2 separate regions of the Homo sapiens genome follow, and region 2 is linked to region 1. The links come from fine-mapping of genetic effects on gene expression. A gene starts in region 1. The other region holds a variant in brackets. All regions are shown on one strand. Distances are from middle to middle.

What was found. PIP is the estimated chance that this variant, and not a neighbour inherited with it, causes the effect.
Region 2: its variant is fine-mapped to the expression of LINC02848 in CD4 T cells (BLUEPRINT, PIP 0.95).

The regions. Positions count from the first base shown.
Region 1 is chr7:63,893,361-63,905,226 of GRCh38, forward strand. It overlaps LINC02848 (long intergenic non-protein coding RNA 2848), which reads left to right and starts at 6,538. Exons shown (of 7, transcript NR_186803.1): 1 at 6,538-6,639; 2 at 6,978-7,085; 3 at 7,269-7,678; 4 at 10,162-10,230; 5 at 11,252-11,378. It also overlaps the pseudogene GABPAP.
Region 2 is chr7:63,694,637-63,706,502 of GRCh38, forward strand. It overlaps LOC105375313 (a long non-coding RNA gene), which reads left to right and starts at 4,570. Exons shown (of 3, transcript XR_927567.2): 1 at 4,570-4,934; 2 at 6,625-6,741. The variant C/CT (reference allele first, on the strand shown) is at 6,180.

The DNA.
Region 1 (11,866 bases):
ATTGTAGAACAAACCTACGCGCCAGCTGAATGTGTAAGCCAGGCCATAGACATCAATGAACCAATAGGCAATTTAAAGAAACTGCTAGAACCAAGACTACAGTGTTCTTTGGATGCTCATGAAATTTGTCTGCAAGATATCCACCTGGATCCAGAACGAAGTTTATTTGACCAAGGAGTAAAAACAGATGGAACTGTACAGCTTAGTGTACAGGTAATTTCTTATCAAGGAATTGAACCAAAGTTAAACATCCTTGAAATTGTTAAACCTGCGGACACTGTTGAGGTTGTTATTGATCCAGATGCCCACCATGCTGAATCAGAAGCACATCTTGTTGAAGAAGCTCAAGTGATAACTCTTGATGGCACAAAACACATCACAACCATTTCAGATGAAACTTCAGAACAAGTGACAAGATGGGCTGCTGCACTGGAAGGCTATAGGAAAGAACAAGAACGCCTTGGGATACCCTATGATCCCATACAGTGGTCCACAGACCAAGTCCTGCATTGGGTGGTTTGGGTAATGAAGGAATTCAGCATGACCGATATAGACCTCACCACACTCAACATTTCGGGGAGAGAATTATGTAGTCTCAACCAAGAAGATTTTTTTCAGCGGGTTCCTCAGGGAGAAATTCTCTGGAGTCATCTGGAACTTCTCCGAAAATATGTATTGGCAAGTCAAGAACAACAGATGAATGAAATAGTTACAATTGATCAACCTGTGCAAATTATTCCAGCATCAGTGCAATCTGCTACACCTACTACCATTAAAGTTATAAATAGTAGTGTGAAGGCAGCCAAAGTACAAAGAGCGCCGAGGATTTCAGAAGATAGAAGCTCACCTGGGAACAGAACAGGAAACAATGGCCAAATCCAACTATGACAGTTTTTGCTAGAACTTCTTACTGATAAGGACGCTCGAGACTGTATTTCTTGGGTTGGTGATAAAGGTGAATTTAAGCTAAATCAGCCTGAACTGGTTGCACAAAAATGGGGACAGCGTAAAAATAAGCCTACGATGAACTATGAGAAACTCAGTCGTGCATTAAGATATTATTATGATGGGGACATGATTTGTAAAGTTCAAGGCAAGAGATTTGTGTACAAGTTTGTCTGTGACTTGAAGACTCTTACTGGATACAGTGCAGCGGAGTTGAACCGTTTGGTCACAGAATGTGAACAGAAGAAACTTGCAAAGATGCAGCTCCATGGAATTGCCCAGCCAGTCACAGCAGTAGCTCTGGCTACTGCTTCTCTGCAAACGGAAAAGGATAATTGAGCCCCAGGACATTCGGGGACTCCAAAGTCTTTCTTAAAATGTTTAGAGCAAGTATAGCTCTTACCTTTATTACTGAATTTGAATCTTCTTTTATTTCTAGGCTGTACAGTCTGATGCATGATTTTTTTATAAATATTTCATACTCTTGTGAATTTGGATCTTTTTATTTTGAGCATATATTTTAGAATATGTGTGTGTTAAAGGATCTCCACAATGTCTGCGGTGTGAAGGCAGGTTCATTGTGGAATAGTTTGTCAACAGTCAGGAAAGCTAAACTGGTCAGTATTAATGTGTAGCCCTACCAAAAATAGCCAGTAGTATCTGAAAATAAAAAATAAATGAAGTATCTCTAGGAAACAGTCTGGCTTAACTATATTTGAAAATATAACTGTTTCCCCTCTCTGCTGCTTTAGATGTTGCTTTACATAGAACCAGAAAATGGAATTTCTCAGATAAAGCATGTGTGCCTGTTTCATCTAATCAAGCAGAGCTAAAATGTTCATACCAAATAAATTTATAATAATAAATTACTAAACTAAGAGTATCAGGTTATTTATATATTTGCAAGCAAAGGACAGTAAGAAGTTGGCTGGCAAAAGAGCAGTGCTGAAGGAGGAGATCCAGGTTTAAATCTGGCTTATTAACTCAAGCCAATTTTAAGGATTTTCTGTATAGATTATTCATGTCAGACCAAGAATTTAAATTATTTTGAGAGAGGCATTTAATTCTAATAAACCAGCTGTTACAAAAATTATAAAATGATCTCTGTTTTTCCTGTCAGAGATTTAAAAAACTGAAAAGGTATACCTCAACCCAAAAATAAAGGTTTGGTTTGGTTTGTTATGGCTTCCTTTTTAAAAAAATTACCCTGTAGTGCCAGTTTATTATGCAAAGCAGCTTATATTCCTTTGTTTCTGATAAAATGAAGACTTTAAATCAGTCAGCAGTACTTTACCTTTCAAGGCATTAGTAAATTACTTGCAAATAGTTTTAAAAGGAAAATTCGACCTCTGTTATAGGCAGTCTTCTCTTTAAGACAATACTTTTCCACTTATTTTTTTTCCTTTTCCATATTATATATGTGTATTCATATATCTATATACATATTCAGTTGATCATTTTATAAACATATATGAAGGCATGAAGATATACAGAAGAAAAATTATTAAACAACTCATTTTAAGATTCAAATTAAGTAATTCCTGCATATATGACATTCCTTACATAAGCGAACACTAAACAAAAATGGCTAGAAATGTCTTTTTCTTTCTTTTCTCTTTTTGTTGTTTGTTTTAAGGTATTAAGCACGAATTATTACATGAGACTGGCAGATAGCTATTAATCCTCTTACAGATTTGAGAAAGTTGATTCTCAAATATTTATGCACCTTTTCCTTCATTGTTTTCTTTAAATATGTCCCCTTAAAAAGCTTCTTAAGAGCTCAGTTAATGCTTTTGACTTAACTAGGAGAAAAAGACATGATAATACAGGCAAGATGGCATTGTTAGCAATTCTGGTAGTGGTTTGGAATGAATCCTAAGAGGCAGGTATCTTAAGGACAAGGAAGAGAAGAGAGAGAGGAGGAATCTTTGATCTCTTTCTCTGGTAATCTTAACGCATAATTTTACTACAACATGTTCTCAATTCATTTATATTATTATATTAAGCTCTTTCTGCAGTTGATATCTGGGCAGAGTAAGATTTGTATTTCCATTTTTACTTTTTTGAAAGAGAATATATGGACAGATTATTAGTACAATTTGGGCACTGTGGTTGTAAGAATATCTGAGTAAAATAACAATATGAAATAATAAACAGAAGCTCTAGCGTCAGGTAACAAATAGACAGCAAGAAAGGTTTTGCACCATCCTCTTACGGCCTAGGGAGTTGACAAGTTGCTTGTAGTTTTAAAAAAATAATAAAGTATACCCTTCTGGTGTATCATCAAGAGCTTAAGAATCTTGGCTTTCATATTTAAAATGCTTTTGGGGAGACATATATTAAAATTTTAGCCAAGATGATAGACATGTCTCAATTATATATGTGTGTGTATGTTTTTAAAGCTAGAAACATTACTTTTAGATTCCTAGAATGAAAACTTTTTTCTCATCTATGCAATTCCCATATGGTTTTTTTAAAATCATATTTTATTCATTTTCTCCCTTTAGCAATTTTCATTTTATTTCTCATAATTTGAACAGAGACAGTTCTCCTACATGATCAGATGCTTTTTTTTTCTTCTTGCCATCATTTATGCATGACATAGGTAAAGTAATATGACTAATTTCTCCAGTTGATTCAAGAAACTCATTACTTTGCCTCAAATTATATGTAAAATATTTGTTTTACTTAGGTTACAGTTATCAGAAAGCCAGGTAGTTTTTTTCTTCTATTAAAATATAACATTGTGAAAGAAAATAAAATTTATTCTATTCATTCTTTGCTTTGTTTTTATAAATGAATTTTTCATAGAATTTACAGTATATTCAAAGGAAGAAAGATAAAATTATTGGTCATCATTTGTACCTTAGAAGTACAAGAATTTAAGTAAAAGAAATGTTCATTTTTGTTTTAAAATTTGTTTTCCATGTGAAGTTTTTATTGAGCCAACTTTCATACATATCTCGCTAGCCTAAAGTCTAAATATTTGTGTTGGCATCAGAAAAACAAATTAGGCAGAATTGCTATGTGTGGTTGATCTTCAGGTAAATTGACTGATCACATTTATTTTTGTATCAGTCTATGTCATTTAATTAGGAAAAACTGTTTAGTTGTTTTCTCCCCTGATTAATGGTGATACTCAAGTATGATACAAAAAGAACTGTACCACCAAATATTTTTGTGAGGTCTGCTGTTTTCCATATTCATTTTATGCTACTGCCTTTAAGAAAGAACCAGTGTATCCTTGAAATAGCACAAAAATGTTTTAAAATTCATAATTGCAAAACAAATCTGTGACTAACTTAATGTCTTCAGATCTAAAGGGTGTAAAAATATTGATACTTCAATATTTCACTTGCTGCCAGGAAAAACAAAATTCTTAATCTTTTGTAATTGGGAGGAGGACTTTTGCATACATTTTTACTCTTTAAATAACGACAATGACACTTATACTGTCATAATAACAATTATGTATTTCTTTGTGGTTTTAATTTTTTTTGTAATTTTACATAAAAGTTATTTTCTATTTTTACGCAGATAAAAAATATTTGTGCATAAAATGTAAAAATAGTAAAATGAGAAAAATAAAACTATTATACAGTAAAAACAAAAAACAGAAAACAAAAAACAAAAAAAAACTGAGGTCCTGGCTTTCAGTAATACCGGATTAGCTTGTTGAATTAACACAGATTATAATGATGACACCTGCATAATATATTACCTATTGTTATAGAAACACAGCTGCATAATATAGATATGACCTATGTGTCAGTAAGAACTGAATGAGGTTTTCAGCTGTGCCCACTGCAGGGTAGACAGGTATTGAGGTTTGAATCCAGCCCAATTAACACCTTTTGTAAAAAATAACACCGCTGTTAAAGGTACACAACAGAAATGAGAGTCTATATAATGATTCTTTACAGTTTTAGTACACAACTTTAAAATTCATGATACGTGTGAAGAAACACAAAAATAGAATCCATACGCAATTTAAAAAGCAGGCAGTAGGAGTGATCCTAAGATATTTAAGATGTTGTAATTCAGGATGTTTAAAGGCAGCTATTATAAATCTGTTCATGGGGGTAAAGGAAAATATTCTAACAATGAAGAGATGTGGAACCTCAGCAAAGACATGGAAATTACGAAATAATAGGAAGATAAGGAAATTTGAAAAATACTTTTGAGCTTATTCAAAGATTAGAAACAGAAGACAGAGCAATAGAAGTTGTCCATTCTGAATAAAAGAGTGAAAAAGCTTTAAGAAAATGAAGTCTTAGAGACCTGTAGAGTGATTGAGTCCAAGTTGGACAGGGAACAGAAAAATTAAATGAGGTACAAAGTTAATCACCAACTAATGGCTGAAAACTTCCAAAAATTGGTCAACCACCCCCCCCCGCCCAAGTTTTATACCCAACATGTCAACAAACCCCTCCAAAAAATACAAATAAAACCCTACCAAGGCCATATTGTGATTTAGGAGACTGGCAGAGGAGAGCTTCCTGTTGACTTGCTGTGATTTCTAATTTTAACTACTTAGAAGAATAAAAAATAGGGTCTCCTTAGAGTTTCTTTTTTTTTTTTTCTTGGAGAAAGTCTGACTTAGGCACAGATGACTGACAGTTTTTAAAGGTAGATGAGTTTCCAGACTTCTCTTAAATTTCCAGTGTGTTAACGTTGAAAATTATTTGAACTTGTTGCTTCCAAATCCTGCAGTAATACTGATGCTCCAGAAAGGCGTCCCATGGAGATTCTGCTCTTGTGCATCCATCCTGCACGGAGCTGAGGCTGTGCCTCCTCTAGTTTCATTAGCGTGTAGTTGTGGGGTACTTCGAGTTAATCTGAAAAACTCAGTGTTAAAATGGATTCAGGCCGGGCGCAGTGGCTCACGCCTGCAATCCCAGCATTTTGGGTGGCCAAGGCGGGCAGATCACTTGAGTTCAGGAGTTCGAGACCAGCCTGGCCCACATGGTGAAACCCAATCTCTACTAAAAAATGCAAAAATTAGCCGGGCGTGGTGGCGGTTGTCTGTAATTTCATCTACTCGGGAGGCTGAGGCAGGAGAATCGCTTGAACCCGGGAAGTGGAGGTTGCAGTGAGCCCAGATCGAGTCACAGCATTCCAGCCTGGGCTACAAAGCAAGACTGCGTGTCAGAAAAAGAAAAGAAAAATGGATTCAAAGATTTATCACTGTTAAGTTCCACCAGCAAATTATTAAATGTGGTTCCAAAGGGATATTTAAAAAGGGAAATTAAAATTGTTTCCAAGAAAGCCCTATTCACAGCAGAAACGTAGACACTGTACCTGACCTCACCACACAAAGTTCCCTCATGTGTTGGGAGGGACCAAGGGGCTCTCTGGTCCTGCACCTGCGTTAATTATGGCCGGGAGGTCCGCAGTAGGACCCTAAGGGCTAGGAACCAGCCTGGGTCAGGGGCAGAGAAGTGGTGGATGTGGCTCCCAAAGTGGCTTAGGGGTTCCCTTCCCTGTGGCTGTTTCCTGACTGGATGCAGCAGGGTCAGGCCTTTCAGTGTGACGTTTTCTACTCTTTATTAGAGTGGCAGGAGCGTCCCTGTGCGAGGCCTGACCCAGGTGTGGGCCTTGCAGCCAGCTCGGGGTCCAAGGGGCACTCCTGCGGTGCTGCAAAGGAGGATTTGTGACAACCCAGAGGATGGAGGAAACGGCGGCTTTGAAAAGGCAAGTGCCAAGTTATCAGGGATCGCTTATATCCATTTCTGGCAGTGAACTGACAATTTCAGACACTCAGGAGGGAGCTTCCCGCGTGGGATCACAAAAAGTCCGAGAAGTGTCAGACATCTGGCCATTAACCCCATTCCTACGCAGGGACTACACTGCCGCTTGTCCGAAGGGGCGTGTCAGGGGCGGAGCGAGGATGAGGGGCGGTGCCAATAAAAGAGGCGGGGGAGAAGGGGCGGTGCTGAGGGGAGAGGCCGGGCCAAGGGAAGAAGCGTGCGAGAAAGGGTGGGGCGAGTCCAGCTACAGGAAGAGTAGCGTTACTATGGCAACCCTGACAGGTTTGTGAGCAGCCCCCGGTCCCCTGCCGCTCCGTGAGAAATCAAACTTCAGGCACTGACGAAGCATGAAGCCAGCATCTTAGGAAGAGGTAGTGACATAATTACAAGGTAGGACCAACCGCCCTGGTCCCACTGTCGCCTGGCAGGCAGGAGAGGTTTGGGAACAGCCAGGCTCCCCTTGACATGGCAGTACTGCTCTGGACGCGGGGAGGTGTGGATTAGTGGGTGGGAGCTACACCTGGCATACTGGGAGTTGTCGTCTTTGATTAGCTTCCAGTTTTTTAATTGCAGGGCGACCGGATTACAATCACAGCCAGCATGAACATGGGGCGGCGCACAGTCCTGAAGAGGAAAGCCGGGCTGTGTTGACCTCGCTGTGCATGCTGGGAGTTGTAGTCTCTTCACTGCTCCCGCCCGTTGTTTCAGGCACTTCGGGACTACAATCCCAGCATGACCCGGGCTCGGGGACGGGGCGCAGTTCTCGTGGGAGGAGCGGGGCGGTGAGAGCCTGGCTAGGCAGGCTGGAAACAGTAGCTCTTAACGGTCCCCCGCCCGTTGGTGGCAAGGCGGCTGGACTGGAATCCCAGCAGGCGACATGCGAGGAGGCGGGCAGCCCAGGAGGGTTGGACACGGCAATGTGGACCTCGCCGCTTCCACAACGATGCTGGCTACTGATCGCGTGCACTTCCTTGCCAAAGAAAGTGAGTCCGGAGAGGGACAGGAGGGGCAGGTCCGGGCTGGGCAGTGAGGAGGGCGTGACGCCGCGATGTACACCTCGCCCTTGTCAAACTGGGACGGGTGTAGTCCTCACCCCACTTCCCGCTGCTCAGCTGGGTTCCCTCTCCCACCTGTACCCAGGGTCTTTCCTGGCCATCGCGCCTCCTGCAGCCCAGGGAGCCACCGGCTTTCCTAAGCTGCTGTGGGAACTGGCCTGAGGTCCAGGCGCTGTCCATTGTGCCGCTGCCCTCTTTTCTCTCCAGCCAGAGCGCAGTTCCGCCGCTGTGGGGAGAAATCCGCCGCCTGGCCCGCCAGTGCACAAGTTCAGAGCTTTGCACGGGGTGACATGGGCTGTGGCTTCGTGAAAATGTCACCCTCACCAGCGACTTTTTCGCGGATGTGGATATTGAGGGGGCAGGGAGGGCCATTATTGGCTTACCCAGGAGATGCTAAAAGCAGAGGAGAAAATTTCAGTTCCCAGGCGTGTGTCTCTGGTGCGCCATTTTTCACCAACCCATTTGGTAGAAAGTCCCCCAAATAGCTACCTAAAGATTAGGATGGTTTAGGTATTTTACACGTGATATCATTGGCCTCATCTCAACAAATGTCTGACTGGCCAGTGTCTCAAACACAGATGGCAGCCTGATCCTCAGGAACAGGTGGTGCTCCAGCTTTGTGGGAGCGACTTTCAAGGTGTGGACCATTTGGGGAGTCTTTGTAACTCCTCAGGCTTCACATCTTTGCTTTGAATGGAAAGCTCATCACCCCCCGGCACTCCCGGAGGTACCTTTACTCTCTCGGGCTGATCTGTTGACCTTTTCTGTCTAGACAATGGGAACTTCTGGGATCACTTCTAGTTTCGTGTAATTGATGTCCCTAATTTCCATATGTCCCCAGGGACAGTCCCTTTGATTCTGGAATGGCGCCAGCTTTTATGCTTTTTATGTCTAATCCGTAAAAACCAAGGTGTTCATCTACATGAAAATAAGACCTTGTTCGTATCGCACGTTCCAACAGGCTTCATTTGTGATTCCTGAATGTGGATTACCATAAAAAAAAACCCTAAAAACCCTGGTCATGGATATTAGACACTGTTATTGTACTTTGTGAAGAATTTACTCCTTCAGGATTAATTGCACACGGGCTCATCAGCACCTTTGTCAATAAAGGAACAAGAACCATGTGGTGTCTATGGATGTGGTGAGATGAGGAAGAGCCACAGCGCAGCGGTTCTTCTCTTGTTTTCAATAGAGTCTGTGGGGTCAAGTACCTGCGTTTCTCCCCCATCCCCCAATATTCTCATTCCACTCCTGAGTGTTCCGTCTTTAGGTGGAAGTTTCTAAATACACTTGTCCGCAAGTGTTGGTGGGGATGTTGTAACGTGAGGGCATCCATCATCCATCACCTTAAAGATAAATGGAGAGGATTTTGTGGTCTGTGTTCAAGAGGCACTGCTGTTGGGTGTGTTGCTGCCAAAACACGTGATCTCAGCTGTCCCCAGCAGCTGTCTTAGAAGATTGGTCCTGATGTAGCCACAGCTGCTGTTCACAGAGCCAGGAGCTCTTTGCAGTTTGGTGTATTCTGCTGAGATTTATGGCTCCGACCCTCCTCTGCTCTGCCATTCCTGGTAGTAACTGCTCAGCTGCCTGGTTTGCTCCAGTGTCCTGGGACCCTGTTATGTAACTGCATTTCAGAGGGTCTTAAGAGATTCTACCCTCACTACACCAGTCACTCTACACTGGCCGTGCACTTAGCTTCTTGGAGCCCTGCTTGTGTCCTCTTAAGTGGAGCTGTGAAGAGTTCTAGTTAGGGATAGATCTCGTTCTTATGCGCTTCAGGCTTATTAGAAAGCTGATCATCTCGTCTTTGGACACATGGACATTGTTACTTTTGTGTATTTTGAAGTCCGATGCTGTTTTTTTTTTAAATAAAAAAAAAATGTGGACCCTAGCAGTAACAGTCACTTTTAAATATCTTTGTGAATTTAACTCTGGCAACAACTCGATGATGTTGGCATGCAATCCCCATTTTATAGGTGTGGAAACTGACACTCAGAGAGGTAGAGTAGCTTTATTTACTTCACACAAGCTTTTGATGAATTTCAAGTCTCAACCTAGAAGTCTTCCTCTAGGGCATGATCATGGCATATTCTACTTTGTTTCTCTGCCAGCATCCCAAAGGGGTCCACATCTCATTAGGACTCCATTTTCTTAATAACAGGAAATTTGCAGAAACAGGCCTTTTTGGGGGAGAGCACTCACTGGGACTTGGCCTTCCCTGTCCTCCACCTTCCCCTTGGCAGAGCATAGGTGATTTGAGGGAGCTGGAGCAGCGGTACCTTACCTGGAACACTTGTTATGTAAAGCCCTCACCTGGAACGCTTGTTGTTATGTAAAGATAACTACCTCTCACTTTTTTAGGTGTGATTTTTTTTCTTCTAATTATTCCTCTGGGCTTTCTCTTCTAGATTTGTGCTGTGCACTAACATGCAATACAAATACTGATGAAAATAAAACTATTGCCCTCCTACCAAATGGTAACAACGCTTACATTTTTCCTTTTTCTAATTATAAAAGAAATGCATACTGTTTTAAGAATATCAGATCATAGAGATCTTTATGTAGTGAAAATCTCCCATGTCTTCCTCTTTGTTCCAAACTCACTCTCTTCTTAGAAGGAATTATTATAGCTTGGTGTTTATTTTTCTGGATGTTTTCTATAAATTTATAAATACATATAAAGTTGGCCAGTTGCAGTGGCTCTCGCCTGTAATCCCAACACTTTGGGAAGCTGAGTGGGGATAATCCGTTGAGCTCAGGAAGTTGAGGCTGTGGTGAGTTGTGATTATGCCATTGCACTGCCATCTGGGCGACAGAGTGAGACCCTGCCTCCAAAAAATTTTTTTAAAAAAAGGAGATACATACCTGTACAGTTTTTGAACACATTATATCATACTATATTGTGTTTTATTTTGCTATTTCACAAGCAATATATCATTTACACTATTCCATATCAGTGCATGAGATTCTATTTTTTTTTTGAGATGGAATCTTGCTCTGTCACCCAGGCTGGAGTGCAATAGCACGATTTCGGCTCACTGCAACCTCCACCTCCTGGATTCAAGTGATTCTCCTGCCTCAGCCTCCCAAGTAGCTGGGATTACAGGCATGTGCCACCAGGCCTGGCTAATTTTTGTATTTTTAGTAGAGACAGGGTTTCACCATGTTGGTCAGGCTATCTCGAACTCTTGACGTCAAGTGATCCTCTCGTCTCGGCCTCCCATAGTGTTGAGATTACAGGCGTGAGCCACAGCACCTGGCCTCTATTTTTAATGTCTTAAATATATTCCAAAGAATGGGTATACAAGACTTGTTTCACTGTTTATTCTTTGATAGAAACTTAGATTATTTCTAGTTTCATCATTGTTAAAAAATGCAGTGATAAGATTCTTGTACATAATTTATTACACTGATAACTAACTGTTCAGTTTATCTTGCTGCCTCTTAGTCGGAGAATATGTCATGAGTTTAATATTTATTTTATGATTTGATTCATAGAGAAATTAATGTTATGACTGGATGAAGACAATTGTGAAGAAACTGCACTTTGAGGTTGTCTATCTCTGTATTCTGATGGAAAAGCGTGGAGTTTAGAAGCACTGCTCACTCCTTCAGTTTCTAACAAGTCAGTATTCTCATAGCAATTTAAATTTAAATGTTCAAATTACCTCTCCTTCCCTGGTTCAGAATAAGTATGTTGTTTTTCTGTTTGTAAAATTTCTGACTCTGGGTTTTTTCAGTTGGGCTTTAGAGAGGATAACTCCCATATCGCTGTTGTATCTATTTCTCTTCAGCATCTGGCTGCATGTGATAAAGATCATAGAATTAGACCTGGTCCTGTATGTATTTTGGGACAAAAATTCAAAGTAATCAACTCAAGATAGGAGTCTACAACTTTAATTCTTAATAAAAGATTTCCTTTGATTTCCCCACATCTTTATGATTCCTAGTGTAGCAGGACAAGCCACAGACAAAACCCCTCAGACACCAAGTTAAAGAAGGAAGTGGTTTATTTGGCTGGGAGCATCGGCAAGACTCCTGTCTCAAGAGCCGAGCTCCCCGAGTGAGCAATTCCTGTCCCTTTTAAGGGCTCACAACTCTAAGGGGGTCTGC
Region 2 (11,866 bases), 200 kb before region 1:
GGCTGGAGAAGGGTAGTTGACAAACTCCCACCCAGCACAGTGTGTATGTCCGTCAAAAATAGGAAACTGTGTCCGGTGGCGGCGGACGCGAGAGGATCCTTTCGGGCCAAGAGCAGCCTGTTAACCTGGCGCGACCCCATCTCTTTAGTCCCACCTCAGCTTCTCAGCTACTTGAACCCCGCAAGGTTCAAGGCTCCAATGAGCTATGATCCCACCACAACACTCCAGTCTGCGAGACTGAGGTAACCCCTGTCTAAAAAAGTAAAAAAGGAAACTATCCAAGTGTGCAACAGGGAGGGACTGCTTAAAGAAAACATGAGGCTAGTTGGGCCCACTTATCCCAGCACTTTGGGAGGCCGAGGCAGGAGGATGGCTTGGGCTCCGGCGTTCGAGACCAGCCTGGGCAACATGACAAAACCCCGTCTCTACAAAAGGTACAAAAATTAGCTGGGGGCGGTGCACACCTGGCCTGATTTTTGTATTTTTTTGTAGCGATGGGGGTCTTGCTGTGTTGCCCAGGGCGGTCTCAAACTGCTGGGTTACTGATATTCTCACCTTGGCCTTTAGACTTGTAGGGATTACAGGCGTGAGCCACTGTGCCCTGCCTGGGTTATGCTATTTAATAGAATAAGAACGTGTTCGGCCCGGCGTGGTGGCTCACGCCTGTAATCCCAGCACTTTGGGAAGCCGAGGTGGGTGGATCAGCTGAGGTCAGGAGCTCGAGACCAGCCTGACCAACATGGAGAAACCCTGTCTCTACTAAAAATGCAAAATTAGCCAGGTGTGGTGGTGCATGCCTGTAATCCCAGCTACTTGGGCCTGGTAATTGAACCCCTGAGACCTGAGGATGAGAAAGCTTGCCTCAGTTCTTCCCCAGGTGATCAGCCCAGGGGTAAGGAAGAAGAGGCTGGAAAAGAGGACCCATGAGAAGGGCCCCCTCCTGGAGTTTGAGGCCCACTCCCTCCTGCCCCAGCCTCTCCTCTGTCCCACTCCCTGCTCTGCCCCACTCCTGTAGCCATGGCAATGGGGGGCTGCATTTGAGTACAGGCCCCAGCAGCAGCCCTAAGCCAAAAGTGGGCAGGCTCACCTGCAGGGGATCAGAGTAACATGGCAGGAAGTAAGGGTGAAAGCCGCCCTGGAACCGTGCCTCTCTGCCCCATCACATCACTCGTGTGCACTCCTCCCTCACCTTACTCAGGCAGCAGCATCATGAGTTCAATGGGAGTGATGTCCTGCTCCCTCTGCTGCCTCTTTTTAGTTTTGGGCTACCATAACACTTTCCCTTCCCCAGCCCTGCCAACCTGGTGGGCCATTGGGCTTCCCTCTCCCAGGGTCCTGGGGACAGACCTGTCCTGTATCATACTCACAGAGAGACCCTTTTTTTTTTCCAGGGCTTGAGGATCATCCAGGTTTCATGAGTTAAATGCAGATCTGAATCATACCAAGCTGAGATTGGGGTACACACTCTCCTCTACTGAAAAGTAGTGAGGGATTCCAACTTCGTGAGAGGGAGAGTGGGGCAGAACCAGGTGGAGTTTTTGTTGTTGTTGTTGAGATAGAGCCTCACTCTGTCACCTAGGCTGGGGTGCAGTGGCACAATCTTGGCTCACTGCAAACTCCGCCCCACCCTGGGTTCAAACAGTTCCCATGTCTCAGCCTCCTGAGTAGCTGAGATTATAGGCATGTGCCACCACCCCCAGCTAATTTTTGTATTTTTTTTAGAGACGGGGTTTTACCATGTTGGCAAGGCTGGTCTCCAATTCCTGACCTCAAGTGATCCACCCACCTGGGCCTCACAAAGTGCTGGGATTACGGGCATGACCACCATGCCCAGCCCCTTCAAGTGGGTGTTGAGGCTTCAGTACAATACTAGTTTCCGTGGCTACTGCAACAAATTACCACACAGTAACTGTCAGTGCTTTTTATAAGGTGAAACAGATTATCTTGTGGGGCTTTTGTTGTGATGGTGATTTGTTAGATTAGTTTAAAGACAGTAATGTGCAGGTGTTGAAAATTATAAAAACAATCTTCACATTTTCATATTTTTTTTGAGACAAAGTTTTGCACTTGTTCAGGCTGGAGTTGCAATCTCAGCTCACCACAACGTCCGCCTCCCAGATTCAAGAGATTCTCCTGCCTCAGCCTCCCAAGTTGCTGGGACTACAGGGGTGCGTCCCACGCCCAGGTAATTTTTGTACTTCAGTAGAGACGGGGTTTCACCATGTTGGCCAGGATGGTCTTAATCTCTTGACATTGTGATCTGCCTGCCTCGGACTCCCAAAGTGCTGGGATTACAGGTGTGAGCCACCCCTCAGCCCACATTGTATAACTTTAAAGCAGTATTAATGGTAATTGCCTTAGGGAAAGATACTTTTGTTGTGATATATAAGTATTATATTCAAGTATATTGTACAGCAAAGGATGTTAAACCTAAGTCAGCATTAATGTATTATATGGTACACTTAAAACTTTAGTACAAATATTCGTGTTTAGCAAATTGACCTTAACACATAATGATAGCAAAAAAATGGAGCTATTCTGATGATAGACCATTGGTTATGTCTGAATTTAATACTCTCCATGCTCTTGACTGTTTCATTTTTTTCATTGAAACAGAGTCTTGCTCTGTCACCCAGGCTGGAGTGCAGTGGTGCAATCATAGCTCACTGCAACCTTCACCACTCAGGTTCAAGTGATCCTCCCATCACAGCCTCCCTAGTGGCTGGGACTACAAGTGATTACCACCATGCGTGGCTAATTTTTGTATTTTTAGTAGAGATGGGGTTTTACCATGTTGGCCAGGCTGGTCTCAAACTCCTGACCTCAGGTGATTCACCTGCCTCGGCCTCCCAAAGTGTTTGGATTACAGGCATGAGCCACTGCGCCTGGGTGCCTCTTGACTTTTTATAGCTGTTATATTATTTTAATTTTAAGTAAATGTTAGCTGAAATGATACAGTTCAGGAGAATCTTCTTCTGTTACTGAAAAAAATCATATTTATAAGTCTAATAAGGTTATACACTAATGTATATGTTTGGAAAATATTACCTTTTCTGGCCAGGCATGGTGGCTCATGCCTGTAATCCCAGCACTTTGGGAGGCTGAGGTGGATGGATCACCAGAGGTCAGAAGTTCAAGACCAGCCTGACCAATATGGTGAAACCCCGTCTCTACAAAAATACAAATATTAGTTGGGCATGGTGGCTGGTGCCTGTAGTCCCAGCTACTTGGGAGGCTGAGACGGGAGAATTGCTTGGACCTGGCAGGTCGAGGTTGCAGTGAGCCAAGATCCTGCCACTGCATTCCATCCTGGGTGATAGGGTGAGGCTCCATCTCAAAAAAAAAAAAAAATTAAAAGAAAATATTACCTCTTCCATTTAGTGCTATATGTATTAAATAATATTAGCTGGTATGTTTTTCTGGCTTTATAATGTGGTTCAGATTTCTGTAGAAATTCTGGCTGTATCTACATTGCCTTAAAGTAATGGGATATTTCTTTTGTTTTTTTTCTTCAGCTGGAGTTTTGCTCTTGTTGCCCATGCTGGAGTGCAATGGTGTGATCCTGGCTCACTGCAATCTCTGCCTCCCAGGTTCCAGCGATTCTCCTAGCTCAGCCTCCTGAGTAGCTGGGATGACAGGCACCTGCCACAACACCTGGCTAATTTTTGTATGTTTAGTAGAGACAGGGTTTCACCATATTGGCCAGGCTGGTCTTGAACTCCTGACTTCATGATCTGTCTGCCTCAGCCTTCCAAAGTGTTGGGATTACAGGAGTGAGCCACTGCACCTGGCACCTGTGACCAATATTATTTCTAAGATCTAGAATGCATTTATTACTGAAACAATGCTGACATACACTGCACCTAAAAAGGAAGAACTAGACATTCATTAAAGCTAGGAAAAAGCAGAATTCAGTGTGCTCAAGAACTGCTCCCATGGACAGGTACAATGGCTCATGCCTGTACTCCCAGCACTTTGGGAGGCTGAGGCGGGAGTATTCCTTGAGGCTGAGTTCAAGATCAGCCTGGGCAACACAGCAAGACCCCATATCTTTTTTATTTTTTAGACATGGTCTCACCTTGTCATCCAGGTTGGCGTGCAGTGGTATGATCTTGACTCACTACAGTCTGCAGGCCTCCTAGGCTCAAGTGATCCTCCCACCTCAGCCTCCCTAGTAGGAGGGACAACAGGTGTGTGTCACCACATCTTGCTAACCATCTCTATTAAAAAAAAAAGTGGCCAAGCACAGTGGTTCACACCTGTAATCCCAGCACTTTCGGAGGCTGAGGTGGGAGGACCGCCTGAGGTCGAGAGTTTGAGACTAGCCTGGCTAACATGGTAAAACCCCGTCTCCAGTAAAAATACAAAAATTAGATGTGTGTGGTGGCAGGCGCCTGTAGTCTCAGCTACTCGGGAGGCTGAGGCAGGAGAATCACTTGAACACAGGAGGTGGAGGTTGCATGAGCCGAGATCGTGCCACCGCACTGCAGCCTCGGCAACAGAGTGAGACTTTCTCTCCAAAAATGACTAAACTAGGAGTCACACAGCCTGAGAGCAGGCTTCTACTGATCAGCTCTGGGCAAATCACCTATCTGTGCCTGTATTTATTCATCCACAATCCCCAAAAGCTCAGAGGAAGTTGAGGGAAAGTGTAAATCTCTAGATAAGGGCAGGACATGTCTGCTGCAGCCTTGAATCTGGGACTCCCCGTGGGGTGAGGGGCCCCCTGAGGCCATCTGTCCTTTGCACTCCCAGGGGCATTAGCAGTATGGTCAGGTGCTGCATCCACAAGCCCACGAGCCAGGAGCATGCTGTGAAGGTCATCGACGTCACCAGTGGAAGCAGCTTCACCCCCGAGGAGGTGCAGGAGCTGCAAGAAGCCACACTGAAGGAGGTTGACATCCTGCACAAGGTCTCAGGGCACCTCAACATCAGTGAGTGAGGGTCCCAAGCTCCACGGTGGGGTGACCCCTGTGATTCTGCCCTGACATGACAGCCCAAGCCAGGGAATGTGGCCCCACCACACAGCCAGTTAGAACCACCCAGGCTCAAGGCTCCCAGCTGTAGCCTCACTGCTTTGACAGAAGGGGTCCCAGGCAGGGATGGTTGCAGGTGAGGGGATGGGGGTTTGATGTCCCTGGGCTGAATGAGCCAGGCGTGCTGGTGCATGCCTGTAATCCCAGCCACTCAGAAGGCTGAGGCAGGAGCATCACTGGAGCCCAGTAGTTTGAGGCTGCAGTGAGCTATGATTGCACTATTGCACTCCAGTGTGGGTGAGACCGTGAGACCTTGTCTCTAAAAATAATAACAATAATAATAATAAAGTTGCTTGAGGCTGAGTTCAAGATCAGCCTGGGCAACATAGTGAGACCCCATATCTTTTTTATTTTTTAGACACGGTCTCACCCTGTCATCCATGTCAGCATGCAGTGGTATGATCTTGACTCACTACACTCTCTGCCTCCTAGGCTCAAGTGATCTTCCCACCTCAGCCTCCCTAGTAGGAGGGACAACAGGTGTGTGCCACCACATCTTGCTAACCATCTCTACTAAAAAAAAAAAAAAAGTGGCCAAGCACAGTGGCTCACACCTGTAATCCTGGGCCTGCCCACACCCCGGGTTGACATCCTTTGAGCACCCTCCTGATTCCCGTGTCAGCTTTTGAAGTTAGCTGACAGCAGCCTCGGTCCCTGACCCCCGTGCCCCAGCTGCCCCTGCCCGGGCTCCCCTGCCACTTGAGATGAGCTAGCCATTTCCATTTCAGTACAGCTGAGGGACACTTATGAGACCAACAGTTTCTTCTTCCTGGGAGACTGAGGTGGGCAGATCACCTGAGGTCAGGAGTTCAACACCAGCCTGGCCAACATGGCGAAACCCTGTCTTTACTAAAAATACAAAAAATTAGCTGGGCATGGTTGCAGGCGCCTATAATTCCAGCTACTTGGGAGACTGAGGCAGGAGAATCGCTTGAACCTGGGAGGTGGAGGTTGCAGAGAGCCGAGATTGCACCACTGCACTCAAGCCTGGGGCATACTTTAGTCCCAGCTACTCGGGAGGGTAGTGTGTGAGGATAGCTTGAGCCCAGGAGGTTGAGGCAGCAGTAGCGGCAGTAAGCTATGATTGTTGCACTGCACTGCAGCCTGGGTAACAGAGCAAGACCCCGATCTCTACAAAGAAGC[C/CT]TTTTTTTTTTTTTTTATGAGCTGGAGTCTTGCCATGTCTCCCAGGTTGGAGTGCAGTGACGCGATCTCTGCTCACTGCAACCTCTGCCTTCCAGGTTCAAGCAAATCTGCCTCAGCCTCTGAAGCAGCTGGGACTACAAGCATGTGCCAGCCACCATGTCCAGCTAATTTTTGTATTTTTAGTAGAGATAGGGTTTCACCATGTTGGCCAGGCTGGGCTCAAAATCCTGGCCTCAAGTGATCTGTCTGCCTCAGCCTCCCACAGTGCTGGGATTATAGGTGTGAGGCACCATGCCTGGCCTCAATTCACAAACGTTTATTTGGAACATTCACTGTAGGCCAGTGTGGTGCCAGGAGATGTAAGGGTGAGTAAGAAACAGTTCCAGGCCCCAAGAACAACCCCTGGGTCAGGAGGGCTGACAGCTTCTTTGTGTTCCACTCTCAGAGCCACCCAGAGTTCCCTTGCTGAGGATCTGAGCATGACCCGGGATGAGGCACTGCCGGACTCTCATTCCGCACAGGACTTCCATGACAATTATTAGCCCAACGAGATCCTGGGCAGGTAAGGCCCAAGCTTTCCCCATGAAGTGCTGTCCTAGGCTCTAGCAGGCCCTGTAGGCTATAGCCACCTCTGCAGCACACCAAGTACTGACCCCACTTTCATTCCCAAAGTGCTGTCCACTTGAAGAAACCCTTGGTTTGGGGTCCTGCCCTCCTGAAGCCAGGACAGATAAGAGAAACCACTCCCAGCAAAAAGTTCCCAGGGGTAGGTGCAACAGCTCATGCCGGTACTCCCAGCACTTTGGGAGGCTGAGGCAGGAGGATTGCTTGAGGCTGAGTTCAAGATCAGCCTAGGCAACATAGCAAGACCCCATATCTTTTCTATTTTTTAAACAGGGTCTCACCCTGTCATCCAGGTTGACATGCATTGGTATGATCTTGACTCACTACAGTCTCTGCCTCCTAGGCTCAAGTGATCCTCCCACCTCAGCCTCCCTAGTAGGAGGGACAACAGGTTTGTGCCACCACATCTGGCTAAACATCTCTATTTTGAAAAAAAAAAAAAAAAAAAAAAAGCAGCCAAGCACAGTGGCTCACACCTGTAATCCCAGCACTTGGGAGGCTGAGGCAGGAGGACCACCTGAGGTCAAGAGTTTGAGACCAGCCTGGCTAACATAGTGAAACCCCATCTCCAATAAAAATACAAAAATTAGATGTCTGTGATGGCAGGCACCTGTAGCCCCAGCTATTTGGGAGGCTGAGGCAGGAGAATCAGTTGAACCCAGGAGGTGGAGGTTGCAGTGAGCCGAGATTGTGAGACTTTCTCTCCAAAAAAAAAAAGAGTACTAATCTAGGAGTCACACGGCCTGAGAGCAGGCTTGTTACTCATCAGCTCTGGGTAGATCACCTGTCTGTGCCTCTATTTATTCATCCATCATCCCCAAAGCTCAGAGGACGATGGGGTAAATTGTAATTCTTATGGCCGCTGGCCCATGTATGCGCACTCCAGGAAGACCCAGAAGCCCCGCCTTCACTTCCGATTGGCTGCGTATGAGAGTCGGTCCTCTGTGACGCCATAGGGGCGCGCCTTCATTGACGTCTCAGAGGCGCCCATTCGAAAAGTCCTATGAGCTGGTCTTTCGCGACGTCACAGGGGCGGTATAGTGCCTGGAGATGGTCAGTCTTCTGACAGTGGAGCCTGGTAACCGCCACCTCCTCTCCAGGTCCTCTGTATTGCTGGCAGCAGAAAGGTAGTTGATAAACTCCCACCCAGCACAGTGTGTATGTCCATCAAAAATAGGAAACTGTGTCCGGTGGCGGCCGAAGCCGGAGGATCCTTTCAGGCCAAGGGCAGCCTGTTAACCTGGCGCGACCCCATCTCTTTAGTCTCACCTCAGCTTCCCAGCTACTTGAACTCCCAAGGTTCAAGGCTCCAATGAGCTGTGATCCCACCACAGCACTCCAGCCTTCGAGACTGAGGTAACCCCTGTCTAAAAAAGTAAAAAAGGAAACTACCCAAGTGTGCAACAGGGAGGGACTGCTTAAGGAAAACATGAGGCTGGTTGGGCCCAGTTATCCCAGCACTTTGGGAGGCCGAGGCGGGAGGATGGCTTGGGCTCGGGAGTTCGAGACCCGCCTGGGCAGCAGGATGAAACCCCGTCCCTACAAAAGGTACAAAAATTAGCTGGGCGTGGTGCACGCCTAGCCTAATTTTTGTATTTTTTGTAGAGATGGGGGTCTTGCTATGTTGCCCAGGCCGGTTTCAAACTCCTGGGTTCACTGATATTCTCACTTTGGCCTTCAGACTTGCAGGGATTACAGGCATGAGCCACCGTGCCCCACCTGGGTTATGCTATTTAATAAAGTAAGAAAGTGTTTGGCCCTGCATGGTGGCTCACGCCTGTAATCTCAGCACAGTGGGAGGCCAAGGTGGGTGGATCACCTGAGGTCAGGAGTTCGAGACTAGCCTGGCCAACATGGAGAAACTCAGTCTCTACAAAAAATAACAAAAATTAGCCGGGTGTGGTGGCACATGCCTGTAGTCCCAGGTGCTCGGGAGGCTGATACTGGAGAATCACTTGAACTGGGAAGTGGAGGTTGCCGTGAGCCGAGATCACACCAAGCACCCCAGCCTGGGTGACACATCGAGACTCTAAAGTTTGAGACCAGCCCAGGCAATGTAGTGAAACCCTTTCTGTACAAAAAACAAAACAAAACAAAACAAAAAGCCATGTGTAACTGTTCACCTGTGGCCGCAGCTACTTAGGAGGCTAAGGCAGGAGGATCACTTGCGGCCAGGAGCTCAAGGCTGCAGTGAGCTATAATCATCCTGCTGCTCTCCATCCTGAGCAATAGAATGAAACCATTTCTCTAGATAGCTAGCTAGCTAGATAATTGATACGTAGTTTTCTTTTCTTTTTTTTTTTTTTTTTGAGACAGAGTCTTGTTCTGTCACATAGGATGGGATGCAGTCGTGCGATCTTGGCTCACCTGCTCACTGCAACCTCTGCCTTCTGGGTTCAAGCAATTCTCCTGCCTGTCTGAGTAGCCGGGAATTACAGGCACACGCCACCATGCCTGGCTAATTTTTTATATTTTTAGTAGAGATGGGGTTTCACTGTGTTGGTCAGGCTGGTCTTGAACTCCTGACCTCGTCATCCACCCGCCTCAGCCTCCCAAAGTGCTGGGATTACAGGCGTGAGCCACGGCGCCCAGCTGATTATGTAGTTTTCTATCAAATTTTTTTCCTAGATTTGAACATGTTTTTCTAAAGTAGCATTCAACACATCAGCATTTTACAGTGTTATTAGTTGTTAATATGATTTTGTTTTTCTGAAATACAGTATCCTTTACAAAAAGTTTTGTCTTTCAAAGCACATAGATAGGTCCTCAAATGAATTTGTCTGATGTTGATTACCTTGGTACCATTTTGTCCACTTGATTGAAACAGTTAGTTGGTAATTTCAGGTCACTATTGGCCTTAGAGGAAGAGCCCAAAGGCAACAAGCAAGGGCACTGGTGTCCAGTTGCCTTCTAGAAGCATTTTCACCTTCCCTTAAGGTTTCCCTTGATGAATATAGAAGTACTGTATGTAGAATTGACCCAGTGCTGCCCTGGCAACTTTGTAGATTAGGCCAAATTTACATTTCTTACCTTTATGAGAGGCACCCTGGTAGGCTAGTGGAGTTACACACGAAGTCTGATCTCAGCCGCACCGTCCAGAAATGCAACATGGTCGAATTGAATAACATTCTCTGAGCCAGTTTCTTTAGCTGTAAAATAAGAATAACAAGTATACTCATCTAAAAAGACAGCTTATTGTATCTGAGTGGTCTTCTATTTTCTACGAAACTGTCTTTAACACAGTAATTATTTTCATTGCCATACCACATTTTTTGTTTTATTTATTTATTTTGAGATGGAATCTGGTTTTGTTTTTGTTTTTGTTTGTGACGGAGTCTCACTGTTGTCACTTAGGCTGGAGTGCAGTAGCATGATCTCGGCTCATTGCAACCACTGCCTCCCAGGTTCAGGTGATTCTCCTGTCTCAGCCTCCTGAGATGCTGGGATTACAGGTGGCCACCATCACACCTGGCTAATTTATTTATTTATTTATTTATTTTAGTAGAGATGGGATTACATCATGTTGCCCGGGCTGGTCTCAAACTCCTGACCTCAAGTGATCCACCCACCTCGGCCTCCCAAAGTGCTGGGATTATAGGCATGAGCCACTGAGCCCAGCTCATTTTTAGAAAAGGATTGCTTGGCCAGTCTCAGTGGCTCGCACCTGTAATCCCAGCACTTTGGAAGGCAGAGGTGGGTGGATCAGCTGAGGTCAGGAGCTCCAGACCAGCCTGACCAACATGGAGAAACCCTGACTCTACTAAAAATGCAAAATTAGCCAGGTGTGGTGGTGCATGCCTGTAATCCCAGCTACTTGGGCCCAGTAATTGAACCCCTCAGACCTGAGGATGAGAAAGCTTGCCTCAGTTCTTCCCCAGGTGATCAGCCCAGGGGTAAGGAAGAAGAGGCCGGAAAAGAGGACCTATGAGAAGGGCCCCCTCCTGGAGTTTGAGGCCCACTCCCTCCTGCCCCAGCCTCTCCTCTGTCTAGGACTCCTCCCTGCTCTGCCCCACTCATGGAGCCATGGCCATGGGGGGGCTGCGTTTGAGTACAGGCCCCAGCAGCAGCCCTAAGCCAAAAGTGGGCAGGCTCACCTGCAGGGGATCAGAGTAACATGGCAGGAAGTAAGGGTGAAAGCCACCCTGGAACCGTGCCTCTCTGCCCCCTCATGTCACTCGGGTGCACTCCTCCCTCACCTCACTTAGGCAGCGGCATGAGTTCAATGGGAGTGATGTCCTGCTCCCTCTGCTGCCTCTTTTTAGTCTTGGGGCTACCATAACACTTTCCCTTCCCCAGCCCTGCCAACCTGGTGGGCCATTGGGCTTCCCTCTCCCAGGGTCCTGGGGACAGACCTGTCCTGTATCATACTCACAGAGAGACCCTTTTTTTTCTCCAGGGCTTGAGGATCAGCCAGATGTCATGAGTTAAATGCAGATCTGAATCATACCAAGCTGAGATTGGGGTACACACTCTCCTCTACTGAAAAGTAGTGACGGATTCCAACTTGGTGAGAGGGAGAGTGGGGCAGAACCAGACCAGACAAGGAGTGGTCACCTGGAAAAAGCCTGCCATCAAAGGCCTTGGTGAGTGCTGGGTGCGGTGGCTCACTCCTCAGCAGTTTGGGAGGCTGAGATAGGTGGATCACTTGAGGTGAGGAGGTTGAGTCCAGCCTGGGCAACATGGCAAAACCCCATCTCTGCTACAAATACAAAAATCAGCTAGACATGCTGTGCTCCTGTAATCCCAGCTACTCGGGAGGCTGAGGCAGGAGAATTGCTTGAACTGGGGAGGCAGAGGTCGAAGCGAGCTGAGATTGTGCCACTGCATTGCAGTCTGGGAGACGGAGTGAAACTGTGTCCCTCCATCAGAAAAAAAAAAAAAAGAAAATGGCCTTGGCAGAAGGACCGGCCTGGCAGTGCCTTCCCTTGAGTTTCTCCTGGGTAGGCCTCTGCCATGAGGAGGTGCTTCCTTCTTCCTCTCCATGGCCCACAGCAAAAGACTGTGTGCTTCTAAGGGGTTGGGTGGGGGACTATTGAAAGAACTGGAAACCTTCAGGTGGGGTT